Linked DNA regions of Homo sapiens: all the other regions are linked to region 1. Evidence: fine-mapped expression QTL. A gene starts in region 1. Each other region holds a variant in brackets. All regions are shown on one strand. Distances are from middle to middle.

Region 1 (4,000 bases):
AGCGGTCCCCCAAGGCTGGACAGAGCCCCTTGGAGGCTCCCAGCGTCTCTCTATCCCCATGGGCAGAATGGAAAGGGGGGCTATTTTCCATTTCCTTGTCAACGTCAGGGGAGCTTCTACAAATCAGATCCCATGGCCTCCCACTCAAAACCCTCCAAGGGTTCACTGGTCCAAACAGAATAAACCCTAAACTCCTTTCCATGACCCAAAAGATCATGATCTGGCTGGTCCCTACCATTCCCCTATCCCCACCCCCAAATCTGCCTACAGCTCCAGCCACAATGGCCTTTGTTCAGTTCCTCTAAGCTCATTCCCACCTCCAAGCTTTTGCAGGCACAGTGCCTTCCTCCTGGTTCAGTCTTCCTCCAAGACCTCCCAGCGGAGGGCCCCTCTTCTAGCTGGGCTCCACTCAAATGTCACTCCCGGAACAGTCATCTCAGGTACATACACCCCTGTCACCTTCTTTTACATCACCCCATCTTATTTTCCTGGCCGTCCTCACCCCAATCGGATTTCATAGCCATTTGCTATGGGTTTGTTTAATGTTTGTCCACTCACTTCCCCAGCCCCGGGAGAGCAGGGGTTTTGTCCGTTTTATACAAGGCACCCAGTTCTGTCCCTGGCACGTTTCTTGAAATAACATATTAATCCAGTAAAGATTCTGAGTTTATCTTTCTAACAAAACTGCCTGTCTTGCTGCCTGTGCCCCCAAATGGCGGCTCCTTCCTCCTGGAATCTCCTTCCCTTCCCAACTCAGCTGACCCCTTTCCAGGCTTAGAGCAGGGAGCAGATAGCAAACTGTTCACTCCACAGTCTTAGATACCAAACTGGCCGGGAGGGCTTCCAAACGACAGATGCCAATTTGCATTCTATTTACATGTCATTTGCATGCAGTTTAACTCAAAGCCTGGATCCTCCGCAAGCCCGAGTCCCCACCGAAGAAACTTCTGAATTAAGAAGGTTCCTTGGCTGAAGTGCCGGGGTTTTTGTGCCAGATCCCTCCCCCACTTCTCTTGTCTTTGCGGGGTCCCCCAGGGCTTTCTGGGCTCTGTTCAGGTGCCCCCCGGCCTGGTGCAGTTGGGCGGCCAATGTGGCGCGTGGGCTGGGGCCCCAGGCGGGGACGCCGCTGCCCGCCACACTCCAGGGGCCTTTGTCCGCGCTCCAAGGAGCCGCCCCCTTAGCGAACGGGGGACGGAAAGGGAGGACTGGCTAGGCCTGGGTGTGACAGAGCAAGGACGGAGGAGTGAACCCGCTGCACGGGGGAGATTTCTGGGGCAAGGTCGTTGGCCCCTTCCCAGGCTGTTCAACCGGCTGCCCGGGGCCAAGGCGGGTGCGGGCTCCTCCCGCGCGCTCCCTTTTCGGCCTAAGCGCTAGGGACCCCGGGATGTGTGGGGTCCTTGTGGGGCTGGAAGCCTGTGTCCCCCAAGGAGAGGGGACCGAGAACAGGTCTAGTCCTTATCTCCAGCCTAGCCGCCTCTTCCAGAGGTCCAAGTGCCCCCTGTCTGGAAGGGAAACGCCACTGCCCCCCCCGCCATTGTATGCAGCCGCCCCCTCCTCCCCACCCCTCCCCGTCATTCGTCCCCAGCCCAGGTCTCAGCTCTGCCATCTCCCACCGCCGTGTCCCCCCCTCCCCTTGCTGAGTAATGCGCACTCAAGCCGGCTGCGGGCTTGACCCCCAGCCCCCGCGACAGGTGCGGCTGTTCACCCCCAAAGTCCAGCCCTTGTGCCCCCGGCTGCGTCTGCCCTGTCCACAGTCAGCCCCCAACGCGGCCCCAGGACCAGCCCGCAGCTCCTCACACATGACGAGTCACTAGGACACGGCTGGGCTCCTTTACCCTCCCAGCTGCCCTTCACCTGTGGTCGCCCCCACACCCTCCTGGGAGACTTGGATCTCTACCTGGTCCGGGCACAGTCTCCCTCCCCCCGTAAAGGTCCCCAGATCCTCCCCTCCCCCGCCCACCCCTCTACGGCTCTGCTCTCGTCGCACCGTGGTTCCCCTCGCCCAGATTCCACATCTCCCCCAGCAATAAACTCCCTGGCTTGGGTTGGGGGGGCGCTTAGAAAAACACAAGAAGCGGACCCCCCAATTCTCCCAAATCCACGGCGGGAAAAGTTTCTGGGGTCCCCACAGCGTCCTCCACTGCATCGGCGCAGCTCGCACTTACCGACCCCCGCGGCCCCGCAGCGCCGACGCTCCAGCTGGCCTTCGGCCCGAGTCACATCTCTGCGGCGCGGCCGCGGCCCCCGCTCCACGCACGCCCGCCTGCGGGTCCAGCTTCACTGCAGCGCCTGCCAGAGTCGCTGCCGCGCGAGGCGCCCCCTGGCCCGGCCCGCGCTGCTGCAGCGGCCGCGGCCCCGCCCCCGCCCCCGCCCCCGGCCGGCCCCGCCCCCGGGCCTCCGAGCCCCACCCCCGGTCCCGCCGGCGGTTCCGCGCGGGGCTAGGCGCCGTCTGCATGCACCCCCGGAGCCCAAGCTCGTAGCTTCTAGCCCGGATCTCAGAGACGATTCCCCCGACCTCGTGCCCCCAATTCGGGGACATTCCCCCCACAACGTCAGTGCGCCCGTAAGCAGTCCAGACGAGCCGGGCAACTCCCCAGGGTAGATCCATTTGCGGGAACACTCCCCTAGCCAATACACTTACCGAGGGAGGTATCGCGACCCAGGGGTCCCAGCGCGGAAGCCTTCCTGCCCCCAGGCCACGCTCCAAGGGGGGTTCATAAGCAGTAACTTCCCCGAAACACACCAGCACCAGGTCCAGGACGCAGAGAGGATCGATCCCGCCCGGTGCCTCTCGAAGTCACCAACGCCCCGGTATACACCTAGGCGCACACACACCGCTAGGCCTCCTCCAGGCAGGTTCCTCCTGGACACACTCTTCTCTCTCCTCACTGCCCAACTCCCAGATGTCGTTGTCCGTTTACGCACACTGGGACCAACACCCGCTTCCTTGGCCCCTCGAAACACACACGTCCAGTCGGTGCACCCCTCACGTGGGTCCCTACGCAGGATCGCCACCACCCCTACCGCACACATCACCCACGTACGCACATGTCCACTGCCCTTCAGGGCTCACACACTCAGCGGCCCGGGCCACTGGCCGTGCGCTCCGCAGACGGTCAGGGCACAGCCCGGACGCGTGTCCGCTGGGCGGCCGTGGGACCTGCTTGAAGGAGGGGTCCGGGGCAGCCGTCTCTGAGTCCCCCTCACCCCGTCCTAGTCCTCAGGCCTCTCCGAGGTCGCATTGCTTCGACCAGGCCTGGGAGCTGCGCTCCGGCACCCCATATGGGGCTGGTTCCCTGGGTGACCTTCAGACCATCAAACCCTGGCAGTCTCAGGTGGCCCCCCGCCAAAGCCAGAAACAGACCTTTGAGCAGCATCCCTTCCCTGCACTCCAGATTCTCAGGGTGAGATTTCCTTTCTCCCTCCGCGGTGCGCCCCCCAATCTCTACCCCCGTCGCCGCAACCATCCCAGCCACATAAGACCAAAAGGGATAGGACGGACCCCTGCTCCCCTCTCCCGGGGGCTGCAGGAAGGGGAGATGCAGAACACCTCCTTCTGGGAATAGTGGCAGCCCCTGATCTTTGGGGACCGTGGCCCTTCCAGATACTCCCATCCCTCCCTGCCAGCCTCCCAGTTCCGGTCCGGTTAGGCCACATCCCCCTTGGGCACGCATCTCTGGGATACCTTTTATTATATTCAAGGGAAAATGGAAAGGAAGAACCATAATGGCAGTTTTTCGCCCCACTCCTGGTTTATTTGCATGGATCCTCAGAGCCCAGAACAGTTCCAGGCACAGTAGGCGCTCATTAAATGTTTGCGGGACGACCCAAAGTGTGTTCCCGCCAGACTGCGCAATTGGAAAGTGGATGGGCACTGTCACCTGGTGGCAGCTCTTGGAACTGACGCCGAGATCCTTTTGTCAACGTGGGCAAGTTCACTTTCGTGAGCCACATGTCCTCAACGTCTGCAAAATGGAGATCTTTTTCATCGCACATGCCT
Region 2 (4,000 bases), 200 kb before region 1:
GGATCGCTTGAGCCCAGGACCTTGAGACCAGCCTGGGCAACATGGCAAGACCTCATCTCTACAAAAAATAGAAATTCGCCAAGCGTGGTGGTATGTACCTGTAGTCCCAGCACCTCAGGAGGCTGAGGTGGAAGATCGCTTGAGCTCAGAGTCAAGGCTCCAGCGAGCTGTGATTGTGCCACTGTACTGTAGCCAGAGTGACAGAGTGAGACCCTGTCTCAGAACCCGCCCCCCCCCTAAAAAAACAGGATGATTTGTGATGAAGAGAGAGTAAGAGGACTGCAGATGGAATGTCAGGGAAGGCCTCATTAAAGAGCTAATGTGTAAGATGAGAACTGCAGGCTACCAAGGAGCCGTCTGGCCAAGCCCTGGGGCACAGACTCTAGTCAGAGAGAACGTGCCTGGCTGGAGGCCAGCACCTGGACGTGTGTGCCAGCCCCTGGTGCCACTCTGTGCCCTTTGTCCTACTGTGTGTGGGGGAGACTGGCCTCTGGGGACTGCCTCACCTATCCTTCCTCTAGCTCCCAATTTGTTCAGCCAGTAGGAGGCAGCAGCATATGCAGGGCAGGAGGAAAGCGAGGCTGGGGTATTTCTCCCCCATTCCTCCTGGGCCATGTTTTGGCGATGGCTTTGTTCCTGCAAGCAAGACTACATCTTGGGCTAGATGGCCTCTTGCCGCTGCAGGTTCCAATCATGCTGTTCCCCCTGCCGCTGCGGGTTCCAATCGTGCTGTTCTCCCCACCTTAATGTGGCTGGGGTAAGGGAAGGGGACCCGCATGGGGTGGGCTAGCAAGGCCATGGAAGGGGCTGGCCGTGCAGAGCTTCTGCACAGAGTGAGAAGTCTGGAGAGCTTTCAGCAGGGCATCCCCAGACTCACATACACCTTTTTGGAATGGAATTGAAGCTGCTTACTTTTTTACACCCCAAAACTTTTTATAGATTCAGTTTAGCATCTGAGAAACACTGTTTGCTATAAACTCTGTGACTGTCTCTCAGGTTTTGCCTCTCCCAAGAGAGCGTCCTCCATTTGGCTGTTACCGTTGTTGAGCATCCCAAAGAGTGAGGCTCTATTTAAAGTCACTGCCTCGAGTGGTGGCAGGGATCATCCGGGGGCTCACCCAGCGTAGGTGGCTTCTACCGTTCCATCTGCTACGATACCCGCGATCCTGCTTTTGTGGTTGGAACAGGGCTTCCTTTTTTTTTAACTCCCACCACCCACAGAAAAATAAGAGTGTAATTTTGGAAACAGGCCATTAAGCTGACAGGTAACTTTGCCTTCTCCTTTTTGGGATCCAAAAAGGGATTCTCAAAGCTCGTTTGCCCAGACAGGAGCGTGTTGATTCGTGGGAATCACGTTTTGTCATTTTCCTCTGTATTGTTTAACCAGGCTTGTGAGTGGGTCTTGCCTTTGTTCAGTAACTGACAACGTTAATTTCTCTACAGCTGCTGCGGGAGGATCTGGGCTTCTGTGTTGATTTTCTTTTTCCCTCCCTGCTTCATCTTTGGGATTATTTATCCTTTTTTCGGTTCTCTGCTAGGATCATCCTGAACATGGGGTCCTGTTTCTTGTTCGAGAGCTTCTCAACGTGATCCAGGACTACACCTGGGAGGACAACAGCGATGAGAAAATCCGCATCTACACCTGCGTCCTGCATCTCCTCTCCGCCATGAGCCAGGAGACGTACCTTTACCACATAGACAAAGGTAGCAGAGCCTCCCC[C/T]ACCAAACCATGCTCCGCATGGATTTCATGAAAGGCAGACAGAATGCTTTCATTTTCTCTTTTATTTTTTCCTCCCTTGTATTTTAGCTTCCATGAACTTCTAGTCCAGGGTCTCACTGTATTTACCTGATCTAAGATTTACCTGGAGCAACTCTTAAGAGTACAGATTCTTGGGCCGGGTGCAGTGGCCCACGCCTGTAATCCCAGCACTTTGGGAGGCCAAGGCAGGCGGATCACCTGAGGTCAAGAGTTCCAGACCAGCCTGGCCAACAGAGCCAAACCCTGTCTCTACTAAAAAAACAAAAATTAGCCAGGCCTGATGGTGCACCCCTGTAATCCCAACTACTCGGGAGACTGAGGCAGGAGAATCGCTTGAACCTGGGAGGCAGAGGTTACAGTAAGCCAAGATGGCACCACTGTACTCCAGCCTGGGCAACAAGAGTGAAAACACCATCCCAAAAAGGAAAAAAAAGAGTACAGATTCTTCAGCCCCATCCTGCCCTTGATTGATTGATTGATTGATTGATTGATTGATTGAGACAAGGTCTCACTCTGTCCCCCAGGCTGGAGTGCAGTGATGTGATCTCGGCCCACTGCAGCCTTTACAGCCCAGGCTGAAGCAGTCCTCCCACCTCAGCTTCCCAAGTAGCTGGGAATACAGGCATGTGCCACTGCTCCTGGATAATTTTTTAAATTTTTTTTTGAAGACGGGGTTTCACCATGTTACGCTGGTCTCAAACGCCTGGGCTCAAGTAATCTACCCGTCTCAGCCTCCCAAAGTGTTGGGATTATAACCATGAGCCACCACACCTGGCCTTCCCTTCTTAATTTGCATCTTTAACAAGCACCTGAGATCATGTTGAACATCAGACCAGTCTGGAGAAACACTGTTTAAAAAAATAATTATAATAATTTCAACTTCTATTTTAGATTTAGGAGGTATACGTGCAGGTTTGTGACAGGGGTATATTGTGCAATGCTGAGGTTTGGGGTGCAAATGAGATAGTACCCAATAGGTAGTTTTTCAGCCCTTGTCCCCTCCCCTTCCTCCCCACTCTAGTGGTCTCCAATGTCTGTTGTTTCCATCTTTATGCCCATGGGTACCCAATGCTTGGGGCCCACTTACAAGTGAGAACATGGCGGTAGTTAGTTTTCTGTTTCTGCACTAGTTCACTTAGGATAATGGCCTCCAGTTGCACCCATGTTGCCACAAAGGCCATGATTTCATTCTTTTTTAGGGCTGCATAGTATTCCATTGTGTGTATGTACCACATTTTCTTTATCCAATCCACTGTTGATGAGCATCTAAGTTGATGCTATGTTTTTGCTATTGCGAATAGTGCTGCAGTGAACATACGTGTGCATGTGTCCTTTCAGTAGAACGATTTATTTTCCTTTGGGTATATACCCAGTAATGGGATTGCTGGGTCAAATGGTAGTTCTGTTTTCAATTCTTTGAGAAATCTCCAAAACTGCTTTCCACAGTGGCTGAACTAATTTGCATTTCCACTGACAGAGTGTTAAGTGTTCTCTTTTCAGAGGAACCCTCTTTTGGATCAGTGTGCTACACAATAAACTGGAACAATGGCTAAATATACACATGCATGAGCTTCGTGCCAGGCCTGTTCCTTACCACAGTCTCAGGAAGGACCCTGGTGTGGGTGTTTGCAACTGCTCCTCAGATGATGCCAAGGCTCAGCAGCCCTTGTCTGGGTGCTCTGGAGGAAGGAGGTGGCCTTGATCACCTGCTACCAGACATTTTGAACTTGCTAGTACAAGTTGGGAGCAGCCTCCTCGTGTCCTGGACTTACCACAGGACATCCCAGTTCCAGGCCTTTTCCCACTGAGCCCAAGTATCCTCCTGCCTGGCGGACCCTCAGTTCTAATTTTTGGATTCCAAAAATTGGTCTTAATGTCAAAAGTGCTTTGGCCAGTAATTGTATACTTTACAGTTAAAAAACCAACTCTACACTTGCAAGTTGCAGTGAACACATTAGCAGTGCTTAAGGGATGGCCTGCCTTCTGTCATACCTCTCAGGCTTTCTCTAGCTGGGTCTGGGGACTGAGGATAAAGATGTAATGCAGGGAGGCTGGTTCATAGCAAGAATGATGGCGCCTACCCTGATCTGAGCACTTACTGCGTGCCAAGGACTACATCAGGCTCTACAGGCCTTTTTCCCTTAATCCTTACAGCTTTACTATGAGGACAGGCATTCATGTCCCCATTTGATGTGTAAGCAAGAGGAGATCCAGAAAGACAATGTGATATACTCCAGGGCT
Region 3 (4,000 bases), 270 kb before region 1:
AAACAAAAGCTCTGAGTGGGTAGAGCGTGGGGGGAGCTTGAAGCTGTTATTAAAGGAAGGTATGATTAACTCCTAACTCACAGCCGCTTCAGCTCATCTCCATGGCTCAGCCACCAGGCCAGCCTTTGCTGTCACCTAACAGATAATTATTGTCTTTTCTACAATATGATTAAGTGGAAGGAGAATCAGAACACTGTAGAACTGGATCTGATATTTCTTGTTAGCATATATATATATATTTAATCTATGTGCTTGTCCTTGAAAACAGCACTTCCTGTACCCAGCAATCACAGAGCTGCTCTTGGAATTTAACACCCTGGTGGTTCTCAAATGCCATCTGAAAAACATTATTAGTGTTACCCATCATGACCTCTGGGTAGTGGAAGGTGAATGGGAGAAATCTCTCCCCATTTGAAGAAATAGGGAACCAGTCTCACTTTGTTGCCCAGGCTGGAGTGCAGTGGCACAATCTTGCTCACTGCAACCACCACCTCCCGGGTTCAAGCGATCCTCCCACCTCAACCTCCCAGGTAGCTGGGTCTACAGGCGTGCGCCACCACACCCGGCTAATTTTTGTGTTTTTAGTACAGAAAGAGTTTCACCATGTTGACCAGGCTGGTCTCAAACTCCTAACCTCAAGTGATTGGCCCACCTGGGCCTCCCAAAGTGCTGGGATTACAGGTGTGAGCCACTGCAGCCCAGCCTACGAAGTTGTTTTTGCGGTTAAGCAGCAATTTGGAAACGAAGCATTTCTGAGGAGCTCAGTTTAAGAAACACTGTGATGTTGTGTTTTAAACCTATGAACTCCCCTCCGTAGCTCATCCCTCTACTTTTCCATCTAACCCCAGTACTGGCACCTTCTCTATGATTAGTAAATTTCTTCAGCTAGAAATGTTACAGTCTGTTTTTTAACAATGAAGTCAGGACCCAGTGGATTATAGCATTGTTACACTTCATGCTCATGTTATATAAAATTGCATAAAATGTATTAAAATTTATGTCTGCTCTTATCTCTGCCTTGCAAAGAATGAATTTGTATAGCTTTTAACTAAGCATGTAACGGGGGCAGCACCACATCTGGAATTCAAGCTGACTTTCTCACGTACCGTAATCTTTGTGCTTGGTCTAATAAGTACAACCCCATGTGTGTTTATCATTTTTTTATTGTATGCACAATCTTGAGAGTACATTCCTTTTTAGTTCTGTATTGATTTGTTCTCTTGGTCGTCTGTTCAGAAATACATTCAATACCTTTGGGGAAGGGCAAAGATGATTTCTGCAAATGTTGCCCTTTTTTATTAAAAATAGCTTCTGTGGTCTTTCTTATAAAAGCAATACATGTTTATTGAAAAAGAAATCAGGCTGGGCGTGGTGGCTCACACCTGTAATCCCAGCACTTTGGTAGGCCGAGGCAGGCAGATCATCTGAGGTCAGGAGTTGGAGACCAGCCCGGCCAACATGGTGAAACCCCGTCTCTACTAAAAATACAAAAATTAGCCAAGTGTCGTGACACATGCCTGTAATCCCTGCTACTTGGGAGGCTGAGGCAGGAGAATTGCTTGAACCTGAGAGGTGGAGGTTGCAGTGAGCCAAGATCGTGCCACTGCACTCCACCCTGGGCAACAGAGCGAGACTC[T/C]GTCTCAAAACAAAACAAAAAACAGATAAGGAAAAAAAAAATAGGCCGGGCGCTGTGGCTCACACCTGTAATCCCAGCACTTTGAGAGGCCAGGGTGGGCAGATCATGAGGTCAGAAGATCAAGACCATCCTGGCCAATGTGGTGAAACCCTGTCTCTACTAAAAATACAAAAATCAGCCAGGCCTGGTGACACATGCCTGTAATTCCAGCTACTCGGGAGGCTGAGGCAGGAGAATCCCTTGAACCAGGGAGTCGGTGGTTGCAGTCAGCTGAAATCGCACCCACCGCACTCCAGCCTGGCAACAGAGCGAGACTCCATCTCAAAATAATAATAATAATAATAATAATAATAATTTTCTGGACTTTTTCTGTGTCTATAAACATAGGTATATATATTTTTTAATTTCCAAAAATAAAATCATACTATAGTCATTATTTGCAACCAGTTTTTCCATTTGTCTGGCTGCAGGTGGGAATGGAAGTGGCCCCACATCTCAAAGAAACCCTAAATAAGAACTTTTTTGACTTCCTCCTTACGTTCAAACAGGTAAGAGAACACTATCAGAATAGCTCATCGATATAACAGTTCTATGATAGCAAATTCACAAAACCCAGTTGGTTTTCCAAGTGGAGAATGCCTTAAAGCTCTTTAAATGTGCAAGCCCTGGAAAATTACACTAGCTTCTGTTGTAGACAATTAAAATGTGTTGATTGTACTGAATAAGCGGAGAAAGTTAATATGCATGTGTTAACAGGAAACGTCTCCAGTCGATCAGCCTTGCTTCTGAGCATCTGCTGGCTCCATTTTTATCAGGTTCCTGCTTTCCACAGCGCTCATTCCCAAAACAGCTCGGCTTGGTGACATGAGAAACTTTCTGTGTTTTTTTTTGGTTTAAAAAAAAAAAACAACCGAGAAACCAGGCTATTTCTCTCAGGGCTGTCCACATGCTTACAAGTATGCACAGTCTGTGAGTTGTGTATGTTTTGTTTGTTGTTTGGTTTTTCCCCTCCTTTTCTAAGTGTTTGTTTGGCCTCCTGTAGATTCATGGGGATACGGTCCAGAACCAGCTGGTGGTCCAAGGAGTGGAGCTCCCATCTTACCTCCCCTTGTACCCGCCTGCCATGGACTGGATCTTCCAGTGCATCTCCTACCATGCCCCCGAGGTAACTGCCAGGTGGCTTCAGTGTGACGCTCACCTCCTGTATGGTGACAGCCCCTGCCCACTGTGCCCTTTAACGTTAATGGGACCCTTTCATAACAGCTATAGCAATGTTAGTGCTAGCCAGCCTTTATAGAGGGCTTGCCATGGTGGCTGGCTCTGTGCTGAGTGCTTTTCTGAGATAGTCTCATTTTGACAGCTGTGGAAGGGGAATGTGGTAGCTCCAGAGGCCATGTACCTAAGTGAGGCCACACAGCTAGAAAGCAGTTTGGTGGCTGGGTGTGCTCATATCTGTAATCCCAGCACTTTGCAAGGCCAAGGTGGGAGGATCACTTGATTTTAGGAGTTTGAGACGAGCTTTGGCAACATAGCAAAACTCCATCTCTACAAAAAAATAGAAAAAATTAGCCAGACACGGTGATATATGCCTATAGTCCCAGCTACTCAGGAGGCTGAGGTGGGAGGACCACTTGAGCCCCAGAGTTCAAGGCTACAATGAGCTGTGACTGTACTACTGCACTCCAGCCTGAGTGACAGAGCAAGACACTGTCTCATTAAAAAAGAAACAAAAAGGAAGATGGTTGGTGACTTGATACAAACCCATAGAATTGGGCTCCAGGGCCAACAAGCCTTATTGCGTCTTCACTTAACCTTCATGTACCCCTTTTGTGTTTATAATAATCCAATAAAGTCTGTAGAGCAGGTATTTTATGGAAGGAAAACAAAACTCAGATGCTTAATTTCTTTTATAATTTTATTTTTCTTTTCTTTTTTCTTTTTTGCCAGTTGAAGTATTGTCAGGAATTGAAGTGACATCAGAATCATAGCAGACACATATTTTCTTTCTTTTCCAAGACTGAGAAGCAGTTTTAGTAGAACACCAATTCAAACTGTCATGAAGACTGTGATAGGCCGGGCACGGTGGCTCATGCCTGTAATCCCAGCACTTTGGGAGGCTGACGTGGGTAGTTCACTTCAGGCCAGCAGTTCAAGACCAGCCTGGCTAACATGGATATATAGGTGTATATCACCATGCCTGGCTAATTTTTTGTATTTTTTTGTAGAGATGGAGTTTCACTATGTTGCCCAGGCCTGTCTTTTGTAAAGACCCTGTCTCTACAAAAAATACAAAAATTAACTGTGCGTGGTGGTTTGTGCCTGTAGTCCCAGCTACTCAGGAGGCTGAGGCAGAGAATCGCTTGA

The links. PIP is the estimated chance that this variant, and not a neighbour inherited with it, causes the effect. A credible set is the group of variants that fine-mapping cannot tell apart.
Region 2: its variant is the best candidate, but not a certain one, in a credible set for the expression of GPRC5B in whole blood (TOPMed, PIP 0.77).
Region 3: its variant is the best candidate, but not a certain one, in a credible set for the expression of GPRC5B in whole blood (TOPMed, PIP 0.51).

Annotation. Positions count from the first base shown.
Region 1 is chr16:19,882,562-19,886,561 of GRCh38, forward strand. It overlaps GPRC5B (G protein-coupled receptor class C group 5 member B), which reads right to left and starts at 2,287. Exons shown (of 4, transcript NM_016235.3): 1 at 2,166-2,287. RefSeq lists enhancers at 1-299, 300-1,030 and a silencer at 2,546-2,840.
Region 2 is chr16:19,680,687-19,684,686 of GRCh38, forward strand. VPS35L (VPS35 endosomal protein sorting factor like) reads left to right here. Exons shown (of 31, transcript NM_020314.7): 28 at 1,539-1,704. Among named protein-coding and RNA genes, the nearest start is that of KNOP1, 36 kb to the right of the region's middle. The variant C/T (reference allele first, on the strand shown) is at 1,721.
Region 3 is chr16:19,614,008-19,618,007 of GRCh38, forward strand. It overlaps VPS35L (VPS35 endosomal protein sorting factor like), which reads left to right. Exons shown (of 31, transcript NM_020314.7): 13 at 2,107-2,184; 14 at 2,679-2,801. Among named protein-coding and RNA genes, the nearest start is that of VPS35L, 60 kb to the left of the region's middle. The variant T/C (reference allele first, on the strand shown) is at 1,637.